Homo sapiens: one gene and its partners. The protein of the gene in region 4 purifies or fractionates together with the protein of the main gene of each other region. This does not show direct contact. Each region holds a gene or a part of one and is shown on either strand. Other genes may lie near its edges. The genes, in order: PLBD1, ECM1, KLK10 and GMCL1.

What was found.
Region 1: the proteins of GMCL1 (region 4) and PLBD1 purify together in Homo sapiens (affinity purification with mass spectrometry; 3 studies listed by BioGRID and IntAct, with this or other methods). This does not show direct contact.
Region 2: the proteins of GMCL1 (region 4) and ECM1 purify together in Homo sapiens (affinity purification with mass spectrometry; 3 studies listed by BioGRID and IntAct, with this or other methods). This does not show direct contact.
Region 3: the proteins of GMCL1 (region 4) and KLK10 purify together in Homo sapiens (affinity purification with mass spectrometry; 3 studies listed by BioGRID and IntAct, with this or other methods). This does not show direct contact.

What each region holds. Positions count from the first base shown.
Region 1 is NC_000012.12:14,564,871-14,572,094, forward strand, and holds the start of PLBD1 (phospholipase B-like 1 precursor), read right to left. Parts: upstream 3,014-7,224; 5' UTR 2,827-3,013; coding exon 2,712-2,826; intron 1-2,711. UniProt on the Homo sapiens protein: In view of the small size of the putative binding pocket, it has been proposed that it may act as an amidase or a peptidase.
Region 2 is NC_000001.11:150,503,655-150,511,120, reverse strand, and holds the start of ECM1 (extracellular matrix protein 1 isoform 1 precursor), read right to left. Parts: upstream 3,013-7,466; 5' UTR 2,912-3,012; coding exon 2,842-2,911; intron 1,591-2,841; coding exon 1,540-1,590; intron 1,461-1,539; coding exon 1,359-1,460; intron 1,287-1,358; coding exon of another isoform or gene 1,200-1,286; coding exon 1,119-1,199; intron 1,020-1,118; coding exon 939-1,019; intron 246-938; coding exon 1-245. Other genes in the region: TARS2 (threonine--tRNA ligase, mitochondrial), read right to left, coding at 4,057-4,205, 5,416-5,530, 6,143-6,215, 6,388-6,489, 6,686-6,786. UniProt on the Homo sapiens protein: Involved in endochondral bone formation as negative regulator of bone mineralization. Stimulates the proliferation of endothelial cells and promotes angiogenesis. Inhibits MMP9 proteolytic activity.
Region 3 is NC_000019.10:51,016,707-51,024,385, reverse strand, and holds the start of KLK10 (kallikrein-10 preproprotein), read left to right. Parts: upstream 1-4,676; 5' UTR 4,677-4,759; intron 4,760-5,014; exon of another isoform or gene 5,015-5,133; intron 5,134-5,243; exon of another isoform or gene 5,244-5,246; 5' UTR 5,247-5,255; coding exon 5,256-5,343; intron 5,344-7,095; coding exon 7,096-7,276; intron 7,277-7,679. Other genes in the region: KLK11 (kallikrein-11), read left to right, coding at 5-341, 1,158-1,294, 1,689-1,841. UniProt on the Homo sapiens protein: Has a tumor-suppressor role for NES1 in breast and prostate cancer.
Region 4 is NC_000002.12:69,832,642-69,839,661, reverse strand, and holds part of GMCL1 (germ cell-less protein-like 1), read right to left. Parts: intron 2,116-7,020; coding exon 1,992-2,115; intron 206-1,991; coding exon 109-205; intron 1-108. UniProt on the Homo sapiens protein: Possible function in spermatogenesis. Enhances the degradation of MDM2 and increases the amount of p53 probably by modulating the nucleocytoplasmic transport.

The DNA of each region.
Region 1 (7,224 bases), on a different chromosome or scaffold from region 4:
CCAAATCACCTTATGGAGACTGAATGACTTCCAAGATGTTAAACTTTTTCAGAACCAGATAAAGGTATGATTTATTTCTCTAGTGACCACCTGACTTCTCTATACATACCACTTAGAAAAAATTATATAAGGACCTTCTAAAATCAATTATGGGGCTTTTGGTCTGGAAAGATAAACGCAACACCATATGTCTGAAATCATAGCTTGAAAGATTTGGCTAGAATGACTGTGCAATTATTTGTCAACTTCTGGAATAATAAAACTATAGAGTAACCTTTACAAATTGAAGAATATGCAAGAATTAACTAAAAGTGTCCGGGCATGGTAGCTCACACCTGTAATCCCTGCACTTTGGGAGGCTGAGGCGGGCAGATCACCTGAGGCCAGGAGTTCGAGACTAGTCTGTCCAACCTGTTGAAATCCCATCTCTACAAAAAATATAAAAATTAGCTGGGCGTGGTGGTGTGTGCCTGTAATCCCAGCTACTCGGGAGGCTGAGTCAGGAGAATTGCTTGAACCAAAGAGGTGGAGGTTGCAGTGAGCCGAGATCACGCCACTGTACCCAGCCTGGGGGGAAAATAAAAATAATAGGAAATAATAGTAAAAAAAAAAAAAAGTAAAATTAAAAATTGAAGAAGTTGTTTTTGGATAGATAGATGCATATGAGTGGATATAAAATCCATTCCAAGGGGATGGACATGCAATCCCTTTAGTGTTTACTGAATTCCTACTAAGTTCAGGGTACTGAGCTGGGTACTTCAGAGAACACATGACAAGTGAGAGGTAGCAAGTCCCAGTTCTTTACTCTTTGGTTGTTCGCAGGCTAGTAGAAGGGTAAAGACAAAGACCCAAAAAGCCTCAAGGGAAAACAGATTAATGTGGGTAGGACAAAGGAAACAGAGATCTCATCTGCTGAAATAGTGTGGCATCACCAGATGTCCTTAACACCTAGGTAAGTAAGAATCCTTTCCAGATTGCTGGGCATGGTGCTGTCAGGATCACTTCATCTCAGAAATGTCCTTACTTTCTGCCTTGGCTCCAGAACCTCCAAGCATGGAGTCAGCTTCCTGTTGGAGGAACTGTTTAAGATGCAGTTTCTTACAAGGTGGTACCTTCTTGAATAAATAGTGCTCCATCTTCAGAAAAACAACGCCTGTCTCACTCCTCAGGCTGCCCCCTCCACCTACAAAAACACTTAATCTCACTCGTCCAAAAAAACAGAAAAGGAATAAAGATTTTAGCCAGCATTCCAAACACAAAAGCTACCTCCACTTTTGGGACCCTCCCCAGCCTCCCCCAGGTACCTCTGAATGAGCTGTCTCCCTAGACTAGAAGTAGACACCAAGGCCACCTCCATAGTTTAGGCAAAGAACACAGAAAATCACGAGTCAGGAGCCTGTGGGTACATCTGATCCCACAGACTGGAAAGATTTAAGATTGAAGAGTGATAACTAAGCAAGTCTCAAAAACGAAGGCTCTTGATGATGGAAGGTAGTGTAATAAGAATCAGTACACATATTTAGGAAGGGGCATCCTCCCCCAAGCCCCACCCTACTCTTGTACAAGGTCAGCACAGAAAAGGGGATTATGAAATAAGACAAAATTAATTCTCTTATTATTACTTTAGAATTCTTTCAAGTCCCTTAGTTACAGTTCATAATCTTCACCTCCTTAGGAACGGAAATCATAAATCCAAGGCTTTTTAATTTAATTTAATTTAATTTTGGCAAAGGATGTAGATTTGCATGAATACCTGTAGAGATAAAACCTGTTTTTCCAAGAGGGAAGTAGTTAAGAAAATGCCCTCTGGCATCCCCTAACTCTGTCTTATTTGCTGTGTTATCTTTATGCGAATTACTTCTGATCAATCTCACTTTTCTCATCTGCAGAATGGGGAATATAATCCTATTTAGGATTATATATTAAAAAAAAAAAAAAAAAACTGCCGGGCGCGGTGGCTCATGCCTGTAATCCCAGCACTTTGGGAGGCCGAGGCAGGCGGATCGCCCGAGTCAGGCGTTCGAGACCAGCCTGTCCAACATGGTGAAACCTCGTCTCTACTAATAATGCACAAATTAGCTGGGCATGGTGGCTGACGCCTGTAATCCCAGCTACTTGGGAAGCTGAGGGAGGAGAATCGCTTGAACCCGGGAGGCGGAAGTTGCAGTGAGCCGAGATCACACCATTGCACTCCAGCGTCGCCCACAGAGAGCGACTCTGTCTCAACAACAACAACAAAACCAAAAGGCCCTTAAGCCCACTGCCAGGCACGTATCAAACTGACAATCGTGCAATCGTGATTTTAAGCCAAAGTCAATGTAAATTTTTAAAACACAAAACAAATGGCAAGCCGGAACCATACCTCCCTACAATCTGGATAAATATATTTAGATGCCCATTGGCTGGAGTTTTTAAGACCAGCCCAGGCTCTGTGGGCCAAGAATCGGCGCAGGAGCGAACCGATTTGTTGGCCAAGAATTCGGGCCAAAACTTGTAAAGTTGGCAGACGCACTCGCCATGCCCTTCTCAAGTGCCCTCGCTGCGCAGCCGCAGGGCTGGAGCGAGACCGCCGGCCGGAGGCGCGTTTCTCTGAGTTCACCCAGGAACCAGACGCCCGCTGGACGTCAACTCGGCCGGACGCGGGGCACGGGCGCTAACAGGCTCCTAGGAGCCTCCCCGGGCGCCCCCCGCCCAGGGCGCGCTCTGCTCACCTGCAGGTTTCGGCGGCTCCGCGGTGACTAACAACAGCGGCAGCAGCAGCAGCAGCAGCAGAAGCGGTGGCGGCTGTGGCAGCCCCGGGCGCCCGCCCGGACCGCCGCGGGTCATCGCTCCACGGCCGCGACCTTCCTCTGCGGGATCAGGCGGCCGCGGTGGCCCGCGGTGGCAGAAGTTGCAAGAGAGGCTCCTGGCCTACTCAGGGGCGCCGCCTCTCCGAGGTGGGGCGTCCTCAACTTTCCTCTTTCTTGAGCCCGGCCTGCTCCGGGCTCTGAGGGGCGAGGACGCTTCACGTGGTGGCCTGGGGCCCACCCCGCCTAGGAAAGGCGGATCCTTTACGTCTGACCCTCTAGCAACCCCTGGGCCGGTCTGGGAAAGTTCCCCAGCTGCACTTCTGGGAAATGCAGAGGCTGCCTGCCGCTTTCTTTCGCAGTTTTGCGGCCCAAGGCTTGGGCGAATCAGTTCACATCAACACCCCTACTAGCCTCTCCCTCCGGGGTCGACCATTTATCTCCAGCAGCGGACCAGGCGCCCGGGCCAGGGTGACATGCGCGCCCTGCCTACACGCAGCTCGGATCCTCTGCTGTTTCTGGAGAGGCCTCCACAGGTGCGTTTTCCTCAGCGATTAGCGTACCCCTCATTCCCAGGCTGTTTAACCTAAATCCATGCGCTGTAGCTCAGATTTTTTATCCTTTTTGCTTCCTCTTCGTTGGCTGGAGCCACCACAGGAGAGTGATTCAGACGGGGCTGACACTAGACACACTCCTACGTTTCTGTGGAGTCCCCATTTCTGTGTGGGGTCAGTTAAAAGTGACATTGTGAAGTAGTCAAAAGTTATGCCTTGGGTGATATTGTGAAGTTGGCACCGGGTGCCCTAGGTGACATTGTGAAGTAGGCAAAAGGCATTTCATTCATTCACTCAGCATTGGCTGGGCCCATCTTATACTCCAGATACCAGTGATATAAAGACAGCTAAGAGCATGCCTCACCACAGACAAAAAGAACTAAGCCAGCCGGGCGCCGTGGCTCACGCCTGTAATCCCAGCACTTTGGGAGGCCGAGGCGGGCAGATCACGAGGTCAGGATATCGAGGCCATCCTGGCTAACACGGTGAAACCCCGTCTCTACTAAAAATACAAAAAATTAGTCGGACACGGTGGCGGGCGCCTGTAGTCCAGCTACTTGGGAGGCTGACGCAGGAGAATGGCGTAAACCCGGGAGGCGGAGCTTGCAGTGAGCCGAGATCGCGCCACTCTACTCCAGCCTGGGCGACAGAGCGAGATTCGTCTCAAAAAAAAATAATAATAATAACAATAATAATTTTTTTAAAAAAGAACTAAGCCATATAGATAAACAAGTACACAGAACTTGCCATTCTACTGTGTTAGAGCTATGTTTAAGGTGCAGTGGGAGAGGGGGAAGGAGGGAACAAGCCACCTCTCAGATGGGAACCTCAGCACCCCACTCTTCCTCTTGGCCTTTCTTCTAAGCTTAACCTAGGTGTCAAGGAGAGATGAGAAGAGAGAATAAGCAGTACCTTTCATAACGGGGAAAATGTAATTGTTAGAAAAGATAAAGAACCTAAAAGTTCATCAAATCTCTGTGCAAATTGTGAAACACAAGTCACAATTTTGTGGTCCAGGCACCATGGCTCATGCCTGTAATCCCAACACTTTGGGAGGCCAAGGTGGGAGGATCACCGGAGCCCAAAAGTTCAAGACAAGCCTGTGCCACACAGGGAGACTCCAACTCATTTTTATTTAATTAAAATTAAAGTCACAATTATGTTTAATGGCATTTAATGAATGAAGACATCGAGGACATTGTAAAAGTTGCACATTTTCCTTCAAGTTAGAAAATTAAAATGAAGAAAAATTAAAACGAAGACATCGAGGACATTGTAAAAGTTGCACATTTTCCTTCGTTAGAAAATTTAAATGAAGAAAAATTAAAATGAAGACATCGAGGACATTGTAAAAGTTGCACATTTTCCTTCAAGTTAGAAAATTAAAATGAACCAAAAATGAAAATTTTGGTTGTGTTATGATGGGAAGAGAACCACATTAGGATGTTCAAGGAAGTGGTGCCACCCCAAATATTTGAGTCATATTGCCCTATACCACCCTCCTTCACCTTACTAACCCTTCTGATCCAAGGAGCCAAGTGTTCTGATGAAGTAAGATGCATATAAATGCCTAATGTGAACCTTGAGGCATTCATTCATCTATTATTTGTCATCAAATATTCGTTGACTCCCATGTTCCAAGCACAGAGCAGTAGACAAAACAAAGTCCCTGCCCTTGCAGAGCTTGCATTCCAGTAGTGGGGAGCAAATTATACATATAAACAAATTAATTGGATCAGGACTTCTCCACATCAGCACTATTGAAATTTTGGAGCAGACAACTCTTTGTTGTGGGGGGGTTGTCCTGGACACCCCTTGGCCTTTACCTACTGGATGCTAGTGGCACCCCCATTGAAAATGTCTCCAGACATTGTCAAATGCTCCCGTAGGGGGGCAAAATTGCCCCCTAGTTGAGAATCACTGAATTAGATGATAAATCTTGCTTTCTTTAAATTATGCCAGTTTTACATATCTGGGAGGAAAATGAGCTGCAAAACTCACACATAGTTAGGAAAATAAATCTTGGGACCCCAAAATCACTAAGCCAAGGGAAAAGTCAAGCTGGAAACTATGTCAGGCAAACCTGCCTCTCATTTTATTCTGAAATAAGATAGCTACAAAGATAAGAAGCTACATACCTCCCTCACAGTTTGCCCACAAGGAAATTCCCTGTGGACAAAGGGAAGACAGAACTTAAAAGTCATCCCTCTGAGGCTCACCTGAGACAAATGCACATCTGATTGCTTCCTCTGCAGTATTGTTTATGTAAAAATGCAGACTCCCTGGGCCAGACTAAGTTGTGTATTCTGTGGAAGGCTGATCAAGGATTCAAAAGAATGTAACATTTTGTCTCTTTTCTACTTCTAACATGGAATACCCCACTTTGAGTTGTCTCGCCTTACCATACTGAACCAATGTACATCTTACACGTATTGACTGATGTCTCATATCTCCCTAAAATGTATAAAAGTAAGCTGTACCCCGACCACGTTAGGCACATGTTGTCAGGACCTCCTGAGGCTGTGGCCCTGGTGTGTCCTTAACTTTGGCAAAATAAACTTTCTAAATTGACTGAGACCTGTCTCAGATTTTTTGGATTCACATACTAAAGCTGCAATGAGGAGAACCAAAGATGCCAGCTGCGAAATGTTCTCATCACTTCTATAATGGACTTGTGTGGTTTGGGGCTACTCAGCGTCCATTATTCTCTTCCTGTACCAACTTTTGGTGCAGGAATGCCAACTTTTGGTGAGCCAAGGGTGGAGGTGTTTCTACCAGGAGACACAATAAGGAAGTATTATTGAATTGGAATTTGAAAGTGCATTACTGAATTGCAATTGGTCTTTTTTGAGCTCCTCTTAAAACATAAAAATATGTTTGAATGGTTAAGAATAGGATTGTAGTATTGGTAATTTTGCCTTACTATCAAAAGGAGTAGGAGCATTGGATGCGGTGGCTCACTCCTGTAATCCCAGCACTTCAGGAGGCCGAGTTGGGTGGATCACTTGAGATCAGGAATTCGAGACTAGCCTGGCCAACATGGTGAAACCTCGTCTCTACTAAAAATACCAAAAATTAGCTGGGCATAGTGGCTCATGACTGTAATCCCAGCTACTTGAGAGGCTGATGCAGGAGAATCAGTTGAACCCAGGAGGCAGAGGTTGCAGTGAGCTGAGATCGCACCACTGCACTCCAGCCTGGATGACAGAGAGAGATTCCATCTCAAAAAACCAAAACCAAAACAAAATGAAAGGACTGGGAGCATAATCTCACCTGGGAAGCACCACTGGGGACTCAGACTCCTCATCCCAATGGGCAAAGAATCCCAGCAGCTGAGTTGCTGGCCCAAAGCAAGGGGAACATGGAAAAAAGGTGGAGAAGAGAAGTCACATATAATTATCTATAGCCAGGTGACCAGTTGCAGAAACAAAGATAGTGGTCTCTATTGGCCTCTATATTTCTTTCCTTGCTGTAACATGTATGTGGTGGATTGAAAATTTTACAGTTACAGTTCCAGAATGAAATATCCAAAATGTAAATTTGTTTCTTTTCCAAAAAAGTGTAATTAACTTAGCATTCAAACACATCCACTGATGGTAATTTTTTTTTTTTTTTAATTTTTTGTAAGACAGGATCTCACTATGTTGCTCAGGCTGGTCTCAAATTCCTGGGCTCAAGTGATCCTCCCACCTTGGCCTTCAAAAATGCTGGGATTACAGGTGTGAGTCCAACCAGTAAAAATTTTTAAATACCAGATTTAAGGTTGCGCAATTTCATTTGGACCAAATCCTTAGTGTCCTTTGCCTTCTTTATGTCCTTACCATTTTTCCTTAAGGATGACCTTAGCTTCGGGGGCTTATGTATTGACTTGGTACTAAATAAGG
Region 2 (7,466 bases), on a different chromosome or scaffold from region 4:
GAGGGTCTCACCCTGGCGAGTGAGGTGGGAGTAGCTGGACTGTGGTAGGTTCCAGGGACCATATACCACATGCTGACGGTTAGGAAGGCAGATTTGGTTCAGATTGTCTGGAGAAGGCCGCCCAGGGGGGAAGCCATCCAGCCGGTGGCCCCAGCCCCCTTGGGACCGGTCCTGTTGGCAGTGCTGGGCTGCATTCCAGGACTCAGGTTCTGGATGGCTCTGGTCCCCAAATGGAGCTGGCGTTCCTGGAATGGGGAAAACAGTGGGAAGCGGGGACATGTGAAGGAACCCACAAAGGCTGGATGAGCTGGGAGGATTGAAAGAATCTGGGGTGGAGGAGAAAGGGTTGGGAGGATATAGTGGAAATGAGAAAGAACAATTTGTGGCTCTTCCTTTTAAAATAACTGAAAGGAAAAGAGAAGCGAGGTGTGAAAGGTGTCAGCTCACAGCCTGCCCCCACCTCCTCCTGCTTCTCAAGGCTCGGGCTTCCTGCTCCTCTCCCCAGGGTCCTGAGCACTAAGGCAGGAGGATGGACAGACCAAAGCTGTCACTCACCCTCTCTCGGCATGGAATGGATGATTATCTCCTCCTGATATGGAAGAGGTGGGTCTACTGGGTAGAAGGAGTAAGCAAAAGCCATGTTGGGATGGCCATCTCTAGCAGAGAAAGCCTGGCTAGTTTACATGCACAAAGAAGAACTCAGCAGAGAAGCAAGTGAAAATAGATGCTATTTTTGCACATCTAATCACATAACTTTCTAAAACAGGTATATCCTCAATTTTACAGATGAAGAAACAAAGGCTTGGAGAAGTATGTAACTTACCCAAGGTTATACAACTGGTGAGTGGCAGAGCCCACCGTCTTGTCTGCCCCGAAGCCCATGCTCTGGGGGAAGGCCATGAGGTAAAGGTGGGTAAAGAAGAGAGGGAGCTGCTTACCTTCCTTCTGTTCATTGGGGTGCTGGAGAGAGGGCAGCTCTTTTTGGAGGGGGACAGCTTCCTGAGGGAGAGGGGGACCCACTGCAAGATAGGGGTGAGGGCACCAAGGAGCAGGGATCAGCCTGGTGTCAACAGGATCCATAGTGGGATAGAGGTGAGGGAGGGTGGGCAAGCGCTCACCTTCCTTTTCAGCAGGGAGTTGGGCAGGTAGCAGCTTTTCCTGTTGGAGAGGGGTGGCCTCCTGAGAGGGAGGGGGCTGCACTATAGAAGGGGGAATGTGTGAGCAGCCCACCCTTTCTCCTAGCCAGGGCTGGGAGTGGGGGCGAGGGCCTCTTCCCTCCTTTCCACCTGAAAAGTGGGATATAGGCCAGATTAGAAACCTGGAGGGTCACTGAGGAGGGCATGGGATGGTGACCTTACCTTGACTCTGTCCCTCAAAGGGAGGGCCATGCTGAGAGGAGTCAGGGTGATCCATGGGGAGGCTTCGGGATAGGGGTGGGGAGGGGGGAGCTGCGTAGCCAACTAGAAGCAAGAGGGGAGACATCAGAGCCCACAGTGCCTCCTGGAGTCCCAATCCCATGCTGCTCCCCCAAACTCTTACCTTCTTGAAAGTGCTCTGGCCTCAGCTGCCTCTGTCCTGTAGCCGTGAAGCCTGGAGGGAAGAAGGGCAAGTCAGGGGCCACTGGGAGGGCCTTCCCTGGACTTCAGCAAGGGATGGGGAGGCTGTGGAGATCAAGAGTGTAGGACAGACAAGCAAGACACGAGATGCCCCTCTGTATTCACCTGCCCCGTGTCCCCTAATCCTCTCCCAGCCCCAACACACCTAGACATGACCAGCTGGGTTCTGAGAAAGCCTGTGGCGGTCTGATAGCTCCACCTCTACTGGCTCAGAGGTTGGGCCTAAAGGGAGTATGGCATACGGGATTGGGGAGGGAGGCCCTCATTTCCTCTGCCAGTCTTTCCCTCAGGGCTGTGGGTTGTCCTCCCCAGTCTCTGCTGGGATGCGTCTCTAGCTTTCAGAGGAAAAAGTCTGGACCTTGAGCTGGTTGGAGCCTACCCAATCCACCTCCTCCACCCACCCTCCTACTCCAGGCCCTTGAAACATCTTTAGGCCTTTGGTTAAGGAGGCTTCCTGAAGGTTGAGTGCTTCCCCTTCAGCCAGTCTCAGCTCCGCCTTAGTTTAGGTCTCAATTTAGGGCCTGGGGGACTGGGACAGGCACAGGGAAGGGTCACTTGTAGGTGATCTGCAGACACAAAAGACCAGGAGCTGGGAAGAATGATGGCATGGGGCTTCACAGAGAAGTGGACAGATTTGCTGACATCCTCAGCAGCTTCCTGCAGGAGTGCCCTGGGTGGTTTTTTTCCTTTTCTTTTCCTTTTTTTCTTAGTTTCCACCCATAGCATTGAGGGGTTCCTGTTTTGTTCAGGCATCAAAGCAGATAAAGAATGTGTTTGTGCTGGATGGAGGGTGGGTCTGTGGATGGACACCCCTCAACTCCTCTAATCAGACAGGGAGTCAGTCGAGGCTTGCTGGGCCAGCAATCCGGTTTTGAGCAGCCTGGGGGCCCCTTTTCCCTCCCTTGCCTCTCCCACCAGCCACCTCCCTACATCCTCATCAGCAGGAGACCCTCACTCTGTGAACCCACCCCCCACTCAGTTGTCTATTTGACTGGGATTCTGTGTTTCTTGGCAGCAGTTTCTAGGAACCCCTCTCCTTCTGTGCCCCTGCTCTCTGCCTCCTTGGTTAAAGGCTCCACTGGCCTAGGCCCACTTTGGGCCTGCTCAGAAAAGGAAAGCCAAACGGAGAATCACTCTGCTAGTGATGAGCCGTCTGGGATGCCTGGACCCAGACCCCTGCCATGCAAGCCCAGACCCCCTCCTAAGTGCTGATCCCCCAACTCACCTCCCTCAGAGGCAGCAGAAGCAACAGCCAAATAGGTCAAGACCAAGGCTGCTCTGGCTGTGGTCCCCATCCTGGGGCAACTGACCACTGGACACTCAGAGGTGGGTCCTCTCAGGCAAGTCTGGATGTGAAGGGCCGGCCACTGAAGCTTGTCTGGTGGCTGTTACGGTTGTGAGCTTCAGGACCAGCTCTTCTTTTATAATTGTCTGGTGTGATCTCCCGCCCTCCTCAGCTTCCTGCCATGACTCAGTCCCAGCTGCTCCTCCTCTGGAAGCCACTCCTCCCAAAGTCACCCTGAAGCCTCCTCAGAGGATTGAGAAGAATGGGACTGATTAGAGGAGAACATTCTTATGACCTTCAAGAGAAACTGATTCAGAGAATCCAGGAGCAAGAGGTGTTTGAGCCCCTAGTTTGTGCCTCAGTTTCTCCATCTACAGGCTGCCTTCTGTGGAGAGGGGATCTGCCAACTCATGAACTGGGGTTGGGGAAACAGGGCACAAAGGAGTTTACAGCGGGGAGCAGGAAACCTATCCAAGGGATCTCCCCTACCAGTGTGAGGTCTGGACTGTCCCTTTTCAATTTCCCTAACTCTCTGGGACAAAAAAGAGGGAGACAAAGTGGAACATCCTTTTATCCCACCTCTCCAGAGTCAGAGATGAAGACATATGACCAGCAGCTTCCAGTTTGTATTTATTTATTTATTTATTTATTTAGAGACAGAGTCTCGCTCTGTCGCCTAGGGGGGTGCAGTGGCGCAATCTCAGCTCACTGCAACCTCTACCTCCCGGGTTCAAGCGATTCTCCTGCCTCAGCCTCCTGAGTAGCTGGGATTACAGGCGTGTGCCACCATGCCCGGCTAATTTTTTGTATTTTTAGTAGAGACAGGGTTTCACCGTGTTAGCCAGGGTGGTCTTGATCTCCTGACCTCATGATCCGTCCGCCTCAGCCTCCCAGAGTGCTGGGATTACAGGCATGAGCCACTGCGCCTGGCCCAATTTATTTTTTTTTGTAGTTTCATTCTCCTCACATCCAAACAGCTACAGCTTCCCTCCTTTTGTGGGGTCCCCAAACCAAGTCTCTTTTCAGGAGAGCAGACATGTGCCTCCACACAGTTCTGAAGTTCTGGGGGCTCCACATTGTCAGCTGGGTTGGGGTCTCCCATGTGAGGGAGGCTGATGGCACTCGCAGGTTTTTGCCTCATCTATGTACAAAGGCTCAGAAAATTTCTTCGGCATTTGGGACCCTCGTGTTCTGTAGCTCCACCAGTCGCTGCACAGCCTCAGGCAAGTCCCACTCCCCAAGGCGACGATTATCTCGAGTCCGAATGTTCACTGTTCTCTTACTTTGCTCTTTCTGGCCAACCACTGCAGGTAGAGGAAGTTTGGGAACCTCAGGGCAAATTCACCCACATGGAACAGTTTCTTTTGCTCTGCAGAAACTTGAGAGACCTAAATCTTTAGGAAGGGTGGGAGCAGAGCCCAGATATGGTTCACAGAAAGGAAGTATTCAGCTGTGTCTGCTAATACTAAATGACCAGTCCTGCTCATCCTGAGGAGACAAGGAAGTGCTTCAGTCCCCGCAGGCCTTATCGCTTCTGGTCAAGAGCCCCAGGGTCAGAGACATAAGAGTCAAGCAGAGAAAGACAAACACTGAGAACCCCACAGAGAGAAACTGTGTGTGTGTGTGTGTGTGTGTGTGTGTGTGTCAGAGACATTAGAGTCAAGCAGAGAAAGACAAACAATGAGAACCCCACAGAGAGAAACTGTGTGTGTGTGTGTGTGTGTGTGTGTGTGCGCGCGCGTGTCTGAAGGGGGTATTAGAGCAAGTGGAAGGTGGCAGGAGTGGTGTGGCCTTCACACTGCCCCGCCTCCCCCCAACCACTCTGACCCTTAGAACAGTTTCCTCTCATCAGTCCCACTCTGGCTCTTGGTGTCTGTTAGGGCTGGATTCACAGAGTGAGGGGCCTCTGCTGAGGAGGATGTATGCAGGGGCTGACTGGGCGGTAAGGGAGGGAAAGGGGCCATGTACAAGTCCCTGGGATTGCAGCACAGCTTGCTCTGGGTGCTTGTAGGGAGAGTGGGGTGTGCAAAACTCAAGAATCAGGTAATCTGGCTGAGGAGTTTCTGCTCCTCACCTTTGAGATAGAGCCCTGAACCCTGGAAAATGAAAAAGGGAGCATGGCAGTGCCAGAATTTTCTCCCTAAGGCCTTTCTCCTCATCCCTTAGGGCTGATTCCATCTAGGTCTAAAATAAACAAGGGTAATTAACGCTGTATTAACCCTCCCGTCCCTTTCTCTCTGATGCTCCCTTGGTTAATTAACCTAACAGACACCAACAGCTAGAGTGGAGTTAAAAAGAGGAAAACTATTTTGAGTGTCAGAAGTGGTTATGGGGAGGGCAGGGCAATGTGAAGGAACACAGGGCCCAAATGAGTCAGGTGTCCTGAATCCTGGCTCCTACCTGCTCAGGTAATGAGCCCCAATTAACCCAAATATGCATTACCAGACTTGGTAAACTTAACAGCAAGAATGCAGACGGCAGGTGGGAGAACATTGGCTCTGAGGTTCAGCTTACCAAACTGAAAATTGTAGTGGGCAAGCTGGGCCCGGCGGATTCTCCGGCTGAGGGTCAGTCCAGAGTCTGCATCCAGGTCACTGACCAGTCCTGCAGCCCGCAGGCTCTGCTGTGCCTGCAACAGAGGTTTGGTGACAGGAAGTTAATTTACTGGAAAGTTAAGGAGCTAGAACAGTCTGATGCTCTTTTCCCTCAATGCCCCCATCTGTTCCTCCTTTCCCTGCCTCGGGGCTCTCCACTTCTTACCAGCAACCTCTCCTCATTTCATCTCCACATTGAGGCCTCCTCCCCATTCATCCCCAACCCCACAATCTTTCTGCCTCCTACTGGAGATGACCCCCCAGTTATTCCGTGGACTTTGCCTTCTAGCCACTGCTCTACCCAACCAGCTGTTTGACTCTGGTACCATCCATATCCTCAATTCTCTCTAGAAAGGAAAAATAAAACTGTGTACTCAATCCCAGTTTTGTGCCAAGTGCTCTTTTGGTGGCTTTCAACATTTGTTAATTTGTTTAATTTTCATACATCTCTACAAGGTAGGCATTAGTCACATTTTTTAGATACAGGATTTCCAGCATCTAGGACAGCAGCCACTCGAGCCCAGTCTTGTGGCTGTGAGGGCTGTGCTCCTTCCTCTACCACCCCTGCAGCCTCTTCCTGCCCACTGCAGGGCACCAGACTCTCTACTGGACCTGCTTCTGCCCCCTCCCTTACCTCAACTCCTTACCTCTTTGGCGTATTCCTCTTGCTCACTCCCCACAGGGATGACCACCACCTGGAACGGGGACAGCCACAGTGGCCTGGTAGGGAAAGAACAGGTGATGGCAAATTAGTCACTCTGGCTCTGGCCAGAAGTGTGCTTGTATGGAGCAGACTTGAGAAGGAAAGAGGCTGGCATATGAAGGGGGACAGGATCTGGAGCATAACTATCCGGTTTGGGGCCAGAACAGAAATCCAGGTCAGAGGTCTCACCATTTCCCCCCGCAGCTTTCTGCCAGCACTCCCAACAGTCTTTCCACAGAACCGAGCACTGCTCGGTGAATGAGGACTGGACGCTCCAGGGCACCCGCCTGCCTTGAAAGGAAAAAGGGGGGGGTGGATGGAATGGTGGAAGTATCACGAATTGTGTACCCAAGATCACCTTCCAGTTTTTAAGAAATATTCAGCTCTGGCAGGAGAGGGTGTGGAGGGTTTAGTTTTTAGGGCCAAAGGCAGAAGGACTTATTCCATGCACTGTCAAGGGAAAAGAGGATAGGGCAAGGTTTTATACCCCTTATACTGGAGGTCAAATCTCAGGGGCAGTTGGAAGTCAAGCTGAATTGTCCCACACTGATGTGGCCGGCCCAGGGCATCGTGGAGGTGCACGTCAATCTACAGGAAACAGATGGGAAGGCACGAGATAAGCCAGAAGCACTATCCAGAACCACTATCCTCCATTACCTGTGCCATCCCACCCTTTAACCTACCCTCATCCCGGGCTACTACCTTCATCATGTCACCTAGCTCTATCATACGCTACCCCTCCAGTTCACTCTACTCAACTCACTCTGGCAGTAGTTCTCAGCAGCTCTCTCCATCTAATAATGGTGTTATAATATTACCTGATGTCCACACCCTGGCCTCTCAATTCCTTGAGCTCCTCATCTCAGAGATCTTCACCACCACCCATCTATGGCTACACCCTTTATCCTGTCATCTCCCCCAATGGCTGTACCTCTGAAACTGTCCATCAGACACCCTACTCTGATTACTGTCTCTTGGTCAGCCAGCTCTGAGAATTATTCCTTTTTTTTTTTTTTTTTTGAGACAGAGTCTCACTCTGTCACCCTGACAGGAGTGCAGTGGCACGATTTCAGCTCACTGCAGCCTCCGCCTCCCGGGTTCAAGCGACTCTCCTGCCTCAGCCTCCTGAGTAGCTGGGACTACAGGTACATGCCACCACGCCCAGCTAACATATATATATGTATGTGTGTGTATATGTGTGTGTGTGTGTGTGTATATATACACACACATATATATACACATATATACACACATATATACACACATAT
Region 3 (7,679 bases), on a different chromosome or scaffold from region 4:
AAAGGTGTCACTCACCTCTCCCACCCATGTCTCCCCCGACCTTTCCTCCTCCAACTACTGTCTCTCCCACCTCAGCCGCTACATAGTTCACCTGGGGCAGCACAACCTCCAGAAGGAGGAGGGCTGTGAGCAGACCCGGACAGCCACTGAGTCCTTCCCCCACCCCGGCTTCAACAACAGCCTCCCCAACAAAGACCACCGCAATGACATCATGCTGGTGAAGATGGCATCGCCAGTCTCCATCACCTGGGCTGTGCGACCCCTCACCCTCTCCTCACGCTGTGTCACTGCTGGCACCAGCTGCCTCATTTCCGGCTGGGGCAGCACGTCCAGCCCCCAGTGTAGGAGCACCAGAGGGGAACCTGGCAGGGGGTGGTGAGGAGGGAGTGGTCAGGATTGTGGAAGGGTTCAGGGCATCAGAGATGCGGTTCACAGTGACGATGTGGGATAAGTTGAGAGGATGTGTGGAAAACGTCAGGATAGGGGGGTGGGGACAAAAGTTGGGGCCTTGGAGTCAGACGGACGGGATATGCAATCATACATCCATAACCTCCTGGTTGTAAGACCTTAGGCAAGCAGCTTCACCTCTCTGAATCTTGATTTTCTTCTCTATAAAATGAGAATGATTATACCCACCTGTCAGGATTGGATTAGAGATAATGTATATCAAGCAACTGACATAAATCATTTATTGGATAGCAGGCTGGGCACCGTGGCTCACGCCTGTAATCCCAGCACTTTGGGAGGCCGAGGTGGGAAGATCACCTGAGGTCAGGACTTTGATACCAGCCTGGCCAACGTGGTGAAATCCCATCTCTACTAAAAATGTGAAAATTAGTTGGGCGTGGTTGTGTGCGCCTGTAATCCCAGCTACTCGGGAGGTTGAGGCAGGAGAATCGCTTAAACTTGGGAGACGGAGGTTGCAGTGAGCCAAGATCACGCCACTGCACTCCAGCCTGGGCAACAGAGCAAGACTCTGTCTCGAAAAAAAAAAAAAAAAAGCTGGATAGCATTGCTGTTGCTATTGTTACAAGAAGAGAGGTGAGTTGGCTGCGTCTAAGGACAGGGATTCCCCCAGGGGCGGGATCACAGCAAGCACTGCATTAGGGGAGGTGGCAGGGGGCTCATTCCCACAGCCCCTCACGCTGTTTCCACAGTACGCCTGCCTCACACCTTGCGATGCGCCAACATCACCATCATTGAGCACCAGAAGTGTGAGAACGCCTACCCCGGCAACATCACAGACACCATGGTGTGTGCCAGCGTGCAGGAAGGGGGCAAGGACTCCTGCCAGGTCAGTGTGGTCTCCAACCACAGCCCCATCCCCATCCCCAGCTTCAATGACATCTTTACCGACATCCACAATTTCATCCCCAACCTCAACCCGCCGACCCCTGCAACTCCCAATCCATCTCTTCCCCTGTTCCCGTTTCTGACCTCAGCACAAACTTCAGCTCCATCCCCGTTTCCACACCATTTCCAGCTCCAACCATCCCCAAACTCGTTTTTGAGCCTAACCCCATCCTTTATCCCACCCATAATCCCAGCTTTATCGCTAAACCTATCACCTTTCCCAGTGCCTACCCATCCTGTCTCGGCCCCACTCCTAAGCACCGTCCCCACCTCCTCCCTGGCTAACACCATGCTCAACGCTTTCTCTGACCGACATTCTCTCTCCCCGTGCCCAGGGTGACTCCGGGGGCCCTCTGGTCTGTAACCAGTCTCTTCAAGGCATTATCTCCTGGGGCCAGGATCCGTGTGCGATCACCCGAAAGCCTGGTGTCTACACGAAAGTCTGCAAATATGTGGACTGGATCCAGGAGACGATGAAGAACAATTAGACTGGACCCACCCACCACAGCCCATCACCCTCCATTTCCACTTGGTGTTTGGTTCCTGTTCACTCTGTTAATAAGAAACCCTAAGCCAAGACCCTCTACGAACATTCTTTGGGCCTCCTGGACTACAGGAGATGCTGTCACTTAATAATCAACCTGGGGTTCGAAATCAGTGAGACCTGGATTCAAATTCTGCCTTGAAATATTGTGACTCTGGGAATGACAACACCTGGTTTGTTCTCTGTTGTATCCCCAGCCCCAAAGACAGCTCCTGGCCATATATCAAGGTTTCAATAAATATTTGCTAAATGAGTGAATCTACTGAGTGCTTACTATGTGCTAGACCCTGATCCAATGGCTTTTATTTTATTTTATTTTTTGACAGAGTCTCGCTCTGTCACCCAGGCTGGAGTACAGTGGTGCTATCTCTGCTCACTGCAACCTCCACCTCCTGGGTTCAAGCAATTCTCCTGCCTCAGCCTCCTGAATAGCTGGGATTACAGGTGCCTACCACCACATCCGGCTAATTTTTGTATTTTTTAGTAGAGATGGGGCTTCACCATGTTGGCCAGGCTGGTCTCGAACTCCTGACCTCAGATGATCTGCCCTCCTTGGCCTCCCAAACTCCTGGGATTACAGACGTGAGCCACCGCGCCCGCCCGGCTTTCATTTATTAATTAAAAGAAATTAAATTAATTAATCTATTTAGGAGACAGTCTTGCTCTGTTGCCCAGGCTGGAGTGCAGTAACAATCACAGCTCACGGCAATCTCAATTTCCTGGGGTCAAGTGATTGTCCTCCCTCAGCCTCCAGAGTAGCTGGGACTACAGGCACATGCCACGAAGCCCAGCTAATTTTTGTATTTTTCGTAGAGACAGAGGTCTCAGTATGTTGCCCCGGCTAGTCTCAAACTCCTGGGCTCAAGCAGTCTGTCCTCCTCAGCCTCCAAAAGTGGTGAGATTACAGGCATGAGTCGCTGTGCCTGGCCTCCAAGCACTTTCAAATGTATCAACTTAATCCTCACAAAACCCTGTGAGGTCGGTACTGTTTTCATACCTATTTTATAGTTGAAGAAACAGACACAGAGAAGCAAAGTCACTTGCTCACAGTCACGTGGCTAGGAGAGCAAGGATCTGAAGCAAGGCGATCTCTTAATTACCAAGTGATGTTCCTGGAGTAAGGCTCTGTTTGTTTCCTTTCCTGTAAAATGCTGCATGCAAAAGTATAACACAGTAAGTAAAGAAGTCAGTTAGCCTGCACATACTAAGACCTAACCAAAGGAGCTTATTGTTTTTCTCCAACTTCCATGATAGGTAATTAGATAGTGGAGACCTCTGCTGGCCAATATGGTAGCCACTAACCGCAGCTGGCTCTTCCAATTAAAATTACATAAAGCCAGAAATGTAACTCCTCTGTCTCACTTGTTATATCTCCAAGGCTGGATAGCCACATGTGACTGGTGGTGGCTGGATTAGCTAGTGCATATAAAACATCACTGCAGAAAGTTCAGCTGAGCAGCACTGAGTTAGATGGCCTCTGAAGAGGATGTCCCACGGAGAGAATCCAGAACTCAGGATCTTTTTTTTTTTTTTTCTTTGCGACAGAGTCTTGCTCTGTCACCCAGGCTGGAGTGCAGTGGCGTGATCTCGGCTCACTGCAACTTCTGCCTCCCAGGTTCAAGCAATTCTCCTGCCTCAGCCTCCCTAGTAGCTGGGACTACAGGCCTGTGCCAACATCCCCAGCTAATTTTTGTGTCTTTTTAGTAGAGATGGGGTTTCACTATGTTGGCCAGGCTGGTCTCGAACTCCTGACCTCGTGATCCGCCCCCCCTTGGCCTCCCAAAGTGCTGGGATTACAGGCGTGAGCCACCGCGCCCGGCCAGCTCAGGATCTTTTGGGATGGTCTGTTCACCTCGCAGAAGTGGCTGGCATGAGCAATAGGAGCCCAGAGTGGAACCAGGGCCTTCTGGTTGTCAAGTGGACTTGCTGTGTGACCTCCTGTGAGTCTCTGCCCTCTCTGAGCCTCTCACTCCTCACCTGAGATGAGGGAGTTGGCTGAGGTGATGCCGATGCCCCTCACAGCTTTGACCTCCTATGATTCAGGGGCCTGTGTGTCACCTGGTGGCACACAGATGGCAGGGAGGGTGTGAGATGGCCACACATGGGTATGAGGCAGAGCCACAGCCCCCCCCAACACGCACATGGGCTAGTCACTGGGACACACACAGAGCTCACTCACGGCCACAGAGTGGGCGTGGGTTTCCCTTTTTCCTTGTTTCTGTTTCTCTTAGCCTCGGCGCCTCCCTCCCTCCCTCTCTCTCTCTCTCTCTCTCTCTCTCTCTCTCTCTCTGGCTCTTTTAGCCTTGGTTTGTTACAATCTCCCTTTTCAAGCCAGCCTCTGTCCCTCCTACTCAACCTGCTTTATCTCTAGGCCTTCCTCCTTCCTCTTCCACAGTCTGGCTTCTCACATTGTCACTCTAGGTATGCACTTCCCATTGATTTCCTCTTGCTCAGTGGCCTCTCATCCTGCCACCCCTAGCCTTGCTGGGGACGTGAACCCTCTCCCCGCGCCTGGGAAGCCTTCTTGGCACCGGGACCCGGAGAATCCCCACGGAAGCCAGTTCCAAAAGGGATGAAAAGGGGGCGTTTCGGGCACTGGGAGAAGCCTGTATTCCAGGGCCCCTCCCAGAGCAGGAATCTGGGACCCAGGAGTGCCAGCCTCACCCACGGTACAATTAGACAGAGGGAAAGGGAGGGAGCCCGGGGGTGGGGGTAGGGGAGGGTGGAGAAGCTTCCGGACTCCTTGGGGTTAAAAGGGAAGGTCCCGCCAGGGGTCCCTGGGCAGAGGATACCAGCGGCAGACCACAGGCAGGGCAGAGGCACGTCTGGGTCCCCTCCCTCCTTCCTATCGGCGACTCCCAGGTGAAGCTACCTGCACCCCACCCGGGTTGGGGTGGATTGCGAGAGGATGGGTGGGGACCCCCGGGCCACAGGCAGGAGCCGGCTTAGAGCCTCGGTTTCTCCACCTGCGGGACGCGGAAGTCCCCCCGCTGTGAGGTTGAGAAAGAGGCTCCCACTGGCTCCGAGCCTCGGATCCCCACCCCGCGCGTGAAGGAGGGGGAAACCTCGGGCGCGGCGTGGCTGCAGCCAGGGTAGCTGGGGCGCGGAGAGCGCTCCACTCGGGCACAGGGAGGACGGGAAGATGCCGCGAGGGGCGTCATTAGGGTAATTGTGCCCATTACCGCTGTTCCAGCCCGAATCTCCCGTCTGCCAGCCCCTGGGGTTATCGGCTGCAGGTCAAAAGGGTGCTTGCGGGCTGGGGTGGCCCAGGCTGGGCGGATGAGCGCGGCGAGGTGGGGGTCTCTAACGGAGCATCTGTTTTAACCCGCCCCTGCACACACCCCAGCAGATCCTGGCCATGAGAGCTCCGCACCTCCACCTCTCCGCCGCCTCTGGCGCCCGGGCTCTGGCGAAGCTGCTGCCGCTGCTGATGGCGCAACTCTGGGGTAAGGTCGGGGGCAGGGGGCGGGGAGAGGCGCCGGTGGGAGGCACGGGCGGGAGGAGAATGTGTTCCCGTCACCAAGCCCCGCGCACCTCTCCTCCCCCGAGACCCCAGCACCCACCCAGCGCTCCGGAGCACGGCCCGCCCCCAAGTCAGCTGGGCCCTTCTTCTGGCTCGGCCCCTGGGTGACCCGCCCCACTCAGGCCCTGTCCGATTTCTGCCACCCGGATCCTCGCTCTTCCGTGGACTCTTCGCCGCGTTCTTTCTCCTCCTCTTACGCCGCCCCATCCCGGCCCCGCTCCATTTTACACTACCGTGTTTTGTTTTGTTTGTTTGTTTGTTTGAGACGGAGTCTCGCTCTGTCGCCCAGGCTGGAGTGCAGTGACGCGATCTCGGCTCACTGCAAGCTCCGCCTCCCGGGTTCACACCATTCTCCTGCCTCAGCCTCCCGAGTAGCTGGGACTACAGGCGCCCGCCACCAAGCCCGGCTAGTTTTTTGTATTTTTAGTAGAGATGGGATTTCACCGTGGTCTCGATCTCCTGGCCTCGTGATCCGCCTGCCTCGGCCTCCCAAAGTGCTGGGATTACAAGCGTGAGCCACCGCTCCCGGCCACACCACCGTGTTTTATCCTGAGTCTTGCCTTACCGCTTTTTGCCCTCTCCCCTCACTTTTTTTCTTCCTCTTTCCCTTTCTCTCTCTTTTTTCTTTTTCTTTCTTTCTTTTCTTTCTTTCGTTCTTCTTTTCCTTCCTTCCTTTCCTTCCTTCCTTTCGTTTGTTTCTTCTTTCTTGTTTTACTTTCTCTCTTATTTTTTCTTCTTTCTTTCTTGTTTTTTTCTTTCTCTCTCTTTTTCTTTCCTTCTTTTTTTTTTTTTTTTTTTTTTGAGACAGGGCAGTGCTCTGTCTCCGTGGCTGGAGTACAGTGGCCCAATCAGAGCTCACTGCAGCCTCGACCTCCTGGGCTCAAGCGATACTCAGCCTCCAGAGTAGCTGGTACCACAGGCATGCACCACCACATCCGGCTTTTTTTTTTTTTTTTTTTTTTTTTGAGACAGGGTCTCACTCTGTCGCCCAGACTGGAGTGCAGTGGCCCAATCTCGGCTCATTGCAACCTCCACCTCCTGGGCTCAAGCGATCCTCCCACCTCAGCCTCCCAGGTAGCTGTGACTACAGGCGCATGCCTCCGCGACTACTTTTTTGTTGTTGTTGTTGTTGTTTGTTTGTTTTTGTAGAGACTGGGTCTTGCTGTGTTGCCCGGGCTGGTCTTGAATTCCCGAGCTCAAGCGGTCCAACCGCCTCGGCTTCCCAAAGTGCTGGGATTACAGGCGTAAACCACTGCGCCCCACCCCTCTCCTGGTTTTCAATCCCGTTTTGTTATTCACACCCCTTCCTCTCCCCGATCCCCGAGTTCTATCCCCGCACCCTTACCTCCCCGCCGCGTTCAATCCCCGCCCCTCTATCGACCAGCGACGTTCTAGCCAGCTCTCCAGGCGCGCTGCGTTCAGTCCCTGCCCTCCAGACCCACCCTATTCTGTCTCATTACTCCACGCTACCCTATCCCAGCTTCCTTCCACTTTCACGCGCTTCTTCTCCTCCCATTCCCTTCGGTGCACGCGAAACCCCCAATATTTCCCTACCACCCTCGCGTTCTGGCTGCGTCCCCCGTCCCCGAACGCAGTCCAGTGCCACAGCCCAGCTCCAACCCCAAACCCAGACCCTGCCCTCCGTGCTTTGATTCCGTCCCCTTTCTTTCTCCAGCCGCAGAGGCGGCGCTGCTCCCCCAAAACGACACGCGCTTGGACCCCGAAGCCTATGGCTCCCCGTGCGCGCGCGGCTCGCAGCCCTGGCAGGTCTCGCTCTTCAACGGCCTCTCGTTCCACTGCGCGGGTGTCCTGGTGGACCAGAGTTGGGTGCTGACGGCCGCGCACTGCGGAAACAAGTAGGAGGAGATCCATCCCCGAGGACGCCACGGGGGGCTGTGGAGGCGGCCTCCAGGGAGGAGCGGGCAGGGCGGGGTCTCTCGGAACTCCCACAGCTGGAGGTGCGGTCCCCGGTGTCCTTCCAGCAGGAGGAGAGACCGGGCTTGCGCTGTGGCCGCCAGGGGGCGGTGTGGTCCTTTTCCGCATTTCTGGGCCCGTCACTCCTCTCCCGCTGATTCTCCTTGAGCTCTAGGAGGAGGTGGTTGCCTGCAACGGATAGAAGCCAGGGTCCGGTGTGGTCAGGAATTTAGAACTAAAGGAAAAGGTTCACTTCGTGAGTCCCCGTTGAAGGAGGAAGGGTTGGGTATTACCACAGAGAAAATGTGGAGTTGGGCTGGGCTCGGTGGCTCACGCCTGTAATCC
Region 4 (7,020 bases):
AAGGAGTTTTCTAGACTACAAGGCTGGAAGGAATTATTTATCTTCTACCAGAAGAATAAGATTATGTTTTTACGATTGTTGCATAATAGTAATTATTGTGGTAGTTACCTTCTACATCAATGTTCTGGTCAGGAATCTCCAGTTCAATAATATTCATGCTGGATTCTTTCCAAGAACCACTGAACATACTAGAAAAGTAGCCAGACTTAAACAAAAAAAAAAGTCAACGATTATCAAGTACTTTCTGTGTCTTCCAAATTATTTGCCCATTTCTAATTCTAAGCAACTATTCTATCCATTAACTAAACTCATCCATTCTATTACTTCAACAGAAAAAGAACTGCCAAATATGTCCACAGGAGAAAAGAAATTAAGATAAGGACACTATTAGGTGTATCAAAATATACTTTTGGTTTAGTACTATTTTTGACAAAAAACTAAAATTCTTATATTACTATCTAAATTGAATTCATGTATATTATTTGAACCTGGTTAGCTTTTTACTCAAACTGTTGAATCTTTACTGTACACCTGAATGGCTATAAAGGACCAAACCAGTCCCAAGTCAGCAAAAACAGGATGATCGCCAAAGAAACCAGGGAAAATCCAAAATTTAGTTTAATGAGAAATGTCCAGAATGGACCTGAATTCTTGGAAAGGTACAGAATGAAGTCTTTAGGTATCTGCCAGATAGCACTCCTCATAATTAGAATTACTTTGAAATGGATCAAATATTAACTAATTTATTTAAAAATGTTACTGAGTACTTAGTATGTAGAAGGCACTGTGAATATAGCAATAAACAAAATCGATATTGTTTCTGTCCTCAGGGGGCTTATATTTTAGCATGTGGCTTGAATTATAATACATCTTCCACGAGGGGTAAAGTTTTAACAGAGGTATTCTTACCCTCAAGTTCACAAAACTGCTTTCAGATATTAAAAAGAAACAACATGAATCATACCCTGAAGTTAAAAGCAATATTCTGATATAGTATCTGGGCAACATACTTCAAGCCAAAATAAATTTGTTTCAAAAACACATTTTAAAACATGATTAAAATGTTAGAGAAGGCAATTCATTTTCAAATACTTTTACTGAAAAATTTTATACTATGCTGTCTTACCAGTAATTATTCTCAAATGGTAAAGAGGAAAAATGTAAGTTCCAAAGGATAAAAACTGTTGTTTTATTTCTAGTGCCTCAAACAATACCTAGCTTATAGATTTGATGAAAGAAAATGAATAAAATATTTGGGCCATTAGAGCAACATTGTATTCTATTTTGAAAGCTCCGATTTTTTTTTTTTTTTTTTTTTTTTTTTTGAGACAGAGTCTCGCTCTGTTGCCCAGGCTGGAATGCAGTGGTACGATCTCAGCTCACTGCAACCTCCATCTCCCAGGTTCAAGCAATTCTCCTGCCTCAGCCTCCTGAGTAGCTGGGATTACAGGTGCCCAACACCACGTCAGCTATGAAAGTTCTGAATTTTTAAAGTGGGGTGGCAGGTAGTAATATTTTCAGTACAGAAATCTACTTAGTCTATATACTTTTTGGTGTTGTCTTTACCTGCATTTTTCAGGAGAGAACTTTCTATTCACACTCAATGTGAACTACAAAGCAACATTTCAGATGAGTTTATCCAATTTAAATAACCATAAGCAAAATAAACACTACAATCTTAACTTTAATGTTAAATATTTTTTCCCCAACTTTTCCCCTTTTATCAACAGAAGGCACCGAAAAAAGCATTTTATGAAGTAATGACAAATACGTAGTATTAGGCTAGTCTGATACTGAAATATCAAAATCTCTTTCTAGACCAAACTTAGTTTTCACTAACAATGTTTGCCATTTTTCTTACAGACTGATCAAATGAGAGGATTTAACCACTATGGTGTTCATGCAAAAGATTACTGTGAAGTGCAATGAGGAAGAACATGACTTAAGAGTTTCAGTGACTACCCTGTTACTCAAATAGAAAAAATACTTACTTGACATAAATATATTTTGTGTAAGCTCCATTCTTCTCCTAGAGCACAAATCTTAATGTCACTGTTTTCACCATTCAAAAATAATGTTTGATAAATATATTTAGATGTACTCTTTAATTTTTTCCTGTTAAAAGAAATGAAAAAGTCACATATTTATATAAAACTGAATGTTTTACTGATTTTGCATATATTTCTAAATACTCCTTTTATTCAATTTCTATTAAATAGAGTCAACTTACCTATTGTGTAAAAGGATAGGGAGATAGTATATATTCAAATTTTCTTGTGTCTAGAAGAGTACATAAGAAACTAATAATAGTGGTTATCTCTGGGGTCCTCTATGCACGGGAGAGATAGTGGAGAAAGGGGGGCAGCATGGGAGGCAGACTTTTCACTACACATGTTTTAGCAATTTTGGACTAATTTAATTACCCATTCAATAGATTAAGAAGTTAGCATGTTGATTTTTTGCTTATTTCCTTATTTAGAAACCAGCACTATGAAGGAGCTCAAATAGCGCAATAATCTGCAAGTAGGAAATGGAGAACAAGAGTAAACATTTCACCTACCCAAGTAATTTTAAAATAATTTACATTTAATCTTATTTTGGTACCAACCTATTCTTAAACTACTTAAAATGTTTTCCAGCCACTGGACAAACGGTTTGCAACCTTAGATCAAAGGTTTTCTTTTCTTTTCCTATTTGTTTTTTAAAATTATTTATTTATTTATTTTAGATGAAAGGTTTTTAAAACTGCTCAAAGGAGAAGTCTTAGGGGCCACCAAGGAGAGCTAAGGAGTGAACTGTGAGCATCCCATCTAACTTCAACCAGAGCAGCATCACCTATTCTATCTGTAAACATACTGGATTTCTGCACAGATTTAATTTAAAGGAAGACTTGACTAAAAAAATAAAGTTTGAAAATCATTGCTCAAAATGATCCAGTAACTAAGAAAAGGCCTTAGGCAGAGGCTGATCAATATCTTAAATTCCTGACCAATTCTGAAAGCTTTCCTAGCACATAAAACCTTCAATCTCTTTTTAAAAATGAAGTAATTGTTTCAGATGACATCCTGAATTGGCGAATTTAACACCTGTGTACTTAACACCTCTTCCTAGCCGACAATAAAAACAGCACATGTCTTAGTGGTAACAGACTTGGGTTTGAGTCCCAGCTGCTCAGTTATCACAGCTGTAAAAAGAGGACATTAATAGTATCCACTTCACTCGTTATGATGCGAAATCAAGAGACAATGTAGTTTCCAGTTCCTGACGGCAGAATGTACACATGTTGGCTTCCCATCCCTCCCCAAATTACATTAAAGATTAAGAGTACAAAAAAGGAATAAGTCCACACCAGGAAAAGGTGAGGGTAGGCTCATCACTTGATGAGAGATTTATACAGATCTGAAAGTTAGAAAACAAATTCAAATGAAAAAGAACAGTGACAGCCACAGCCAAAAAATACATTATGGAGGACTAGGATGGAGGCTAAGCTTATCTGCCCATCAGAACCCTTGGGAGAAAAGAAGGATGAGGTCTCAGGGAAACAAAGGCAGAAGTAAGAAGAGGGGCAGAAAATGGGGAAACTAGTGCCTTCTCCACTCTATGAACACAGAGTATAGATAAGGAGAGTACAGATACTGAGGCAAAAAGATTCCAAGGTTTTTCTAGAAATAGCACAAAGCTAATGGAAGATCTAAGGCTGTAGTGTAGCTGCTGGTGCCCAGACAAAGCAATCCTCATTCTGAAATTTAAAGAATCTGTGGCCTGTTCACTCCCAATCCATTCACCCTAAGTCATGGTTCCCAAACCGTGTGTGAAATTCACCAGTTCAGGATACCATCTGAACTTAGAGCACCACAGCCAACTCAGAGAGGCATGTGGAGTATTTTAAATTCGAAGGAAACACAGTAACATCTTTCAGATACCATGCAATCTGCTATCATTAGGTTGTTTGGCCCTAACTATGAGGTATTTCTTTTGGACCAGGGGTGAAAATTACTAAAATATGAAATGTGCTGTGATCCATGAAAGCTTGGGAACCTCTGCTCTACAAAGCATGCCCCACCTATAACCAACTTCGTAGTCTTCTTACTCAAAGAAGAGGTACATTGGAAATAGATCTATTTCCTCAATTAAAACACCATACACCAGTTACTCCTTCTTAAATATAAGTGGACAAGCAAGGAAGGATCACCCACCATGAGGAAGAATAAGAGCATATCAGAGAGACAGAGAGACTCCCTCCACCCCTGGAAACATATAATTCAGGGAAAAGAGAGGAAAAAAACACCCTCTCACCAGTATACCTAGAGATCTGAGATTATTATATTTACCCCATAGACTGCTATGATAAAGGATCACTCAGAACAAGAAAGAGCTTTTAGAGACTAAAGACATGATTACTGAAATTTAAAAAAACAAATAAACCAAAGAATAGTTTGTTTGTTTTTCTTCCTCATGTTGGGTGATCCTTCCTTGCTTGTCCACTTATATTTAAGAATGAATAACTGATGTATGGTGTTTTAATTGAGTAAATAGATCTATTTCCAAGGTACCTCTTCTTTGAGTAAGAAGACTACGAAGTTGGTTATAGGTGGGGCATGCTTTGTAGAGCAGAGGTTCCCAAGCTTTCATGGATCACAGCACATTTCATATTTTAGTAATTTTCACCCCTGGTCCAAAAGAAATACCTCATAGTTAGGGCCAAACAACCTAATGATAGTGATGAAAAAGTTAAAGGAAATTTCCCAGAACATAAAGCAAAAAGACAAAGAAAGGAAAAAAGAAGAGACAGGCATAATCCAAGAAATCCAAAATCCAGTTAAGAGGCATCCCAGAAAGAAAAAATAAAGATAAGAAGCGAAAGGAAATTATGGAAGAAATTAATGGAAAAAAATTTCCCAAAACTAAGGTAGTATATGAGTCTCCAGATTATAAGGATCCAACAAGTACCAAGGCCATTAAAAGACCCACACTTAAGCACATTCTAATTAAATCCCAAAATACCAAAGAAAAAGTTCCACAAGTTCCAGAGAGCAAAAATGGTCACCTGAAAAGAGAATTACACCAGAATCAAATTTTTCATCAAGACTGTAGGCCTGAAGACAATGAAGCAGCGTCATCAAAGATATGAAGAAAGTTACTTTAGATTTCCATACCCAGTCAGAGGATGAATAAAGTAAAAGAGACTAAATTTATATTTAGATACGCACAAATTACCCCCTTTTGCACCCTTCCTTGGAAAATACTTGAGGATGTATTAAATAGTTCCTAAAATAAGCGAGAAAGAAATGCAGGCTACACAAAATAGTGGATTCAATCCTAGAGATGGGGTGAAAGTAAGTCCCAGCATAAGAGTAGACAAATCCAGATTGGAACAGGAGGATGGAAGAGGTCTAGGTTTTAGAGAAGGATTCCATGAAAGTGTGTTTCAAAAGACTTTTCTGTGTTTTTTCAGAAAAACCCGAAGCCATGATGAAGGAATATTGTTATTTTGACAAGAGTGGGGGAAAGGCCATTATAAACTCTAGGACAATAAAAAAGCAATACAAAAAAAGGCACTGTCCAAATAAGATAAAAACAAAAGCAGGGCCTGACTTTAAGCACTTGATGGAATACAAGAAAAGATTCCATATGACTGTGAGGTTAGAAAAATTTCTCCCTTTGAACAGACAAGCAGTTGTGACACTGGACCCATCAAGTATGATTTATAATCCTAGCATACTACTTAACTCTTCTGAAACAATATTTACTTAGTTATAACTATGTAATGTCGTTTCAATTTTTTAGAGACAAGCTACGGACAAAACACTCAAGATCTGGTTGTAGAACAGTGTGGGTTTTAACAGTCTCGTAAATGTAAAAGTAGAACATGCAGTTGACAAAGGTATGAGGTGGAAGTTGGGCCTAAAAGCTAAAACTTCTCATAAAGTGGTCTGTTGATGTGGGAGAGCACACCAGACAACCTCAGGAAGTATATACTAGGGCCAACACACAAAATTCAACATCTTAATACTTTCTCTTTTAAATTTTTATTTGTTTAGTTTTTGAGACAGGGTCTTACTCTGTTGCTCAGGCTGGAGCGCAGTGGCGCAATCTTGGCTCACTACAACCTCCGCCTCCTGAGTTCAGGTAATTCTCCTGCCTCAGCCTCCCAAGTAGCTAGGAATACAGGCGTGCACCACCAAGCCTGGCTAATTTTTGTATTTTTTGGTAGAGGCGGGGTTTCACTGTGTTGGTCAGGCTGGTCTCAAACTCCTGGCCTAAAGTGATCTGCTTGCCTTGGCTTCCCAAAGTGCTGGGATTACAGGCGTGAGCCACCACGCCTGGCCCGTCTTAGTATTTTCTTACACCCTGCATCCGTATTGGGCTGAATAATCCAAGCATCTTCCAGTAATATACAGACACTAAATTCTGATATGCATTTTCCGATAAAGGTTTGCCTTAAAAACTTTCCATTCCAGTCCACTCATGTAGTCTAGGAGTTGGTACACTTTTTCTGTAAAGGTCTAGATAGTAAATATCTTTAGCCTTCTGGGCCAAAAGGCCTCCAAATAATTTTGTTGGCATCCTAGTAGGCAGTGTCCTACTTGCCAGCCTCAGCTTACCACACTTGAGCAAACTTTTCCACCATCCAGTGGGCTACAGCCACACCTCCTTCAACATCATCTGAATCTTAGCTTGGGAAAGGGGTGGGGGCACCTATTCCAAATTTGTTCCTTCTGTGGCTATTCTGCCTCAGCCTTAGAAGTACTGACTACTACATGTATTTTCTAGGGATCTCTTTACCTTAGCGTTTTGTCCTCAGTAGTTAATTCTCTGTGCCTTGTTAATAATGTTTATATTAAATTTCCTGTATTCAAATTGCTGTGTGATTTCTCTCCTTCAAATGCACTGTGACATATATTTCAATAATTACGTTAAATATAAGTGGTCTAACTACTAATTGAAAGGTTAGATTGTCCTGTTGGACAAAAGAAGCAAGACTCAACTATATGCTGTTTACTTGATATCTGTTTTAAA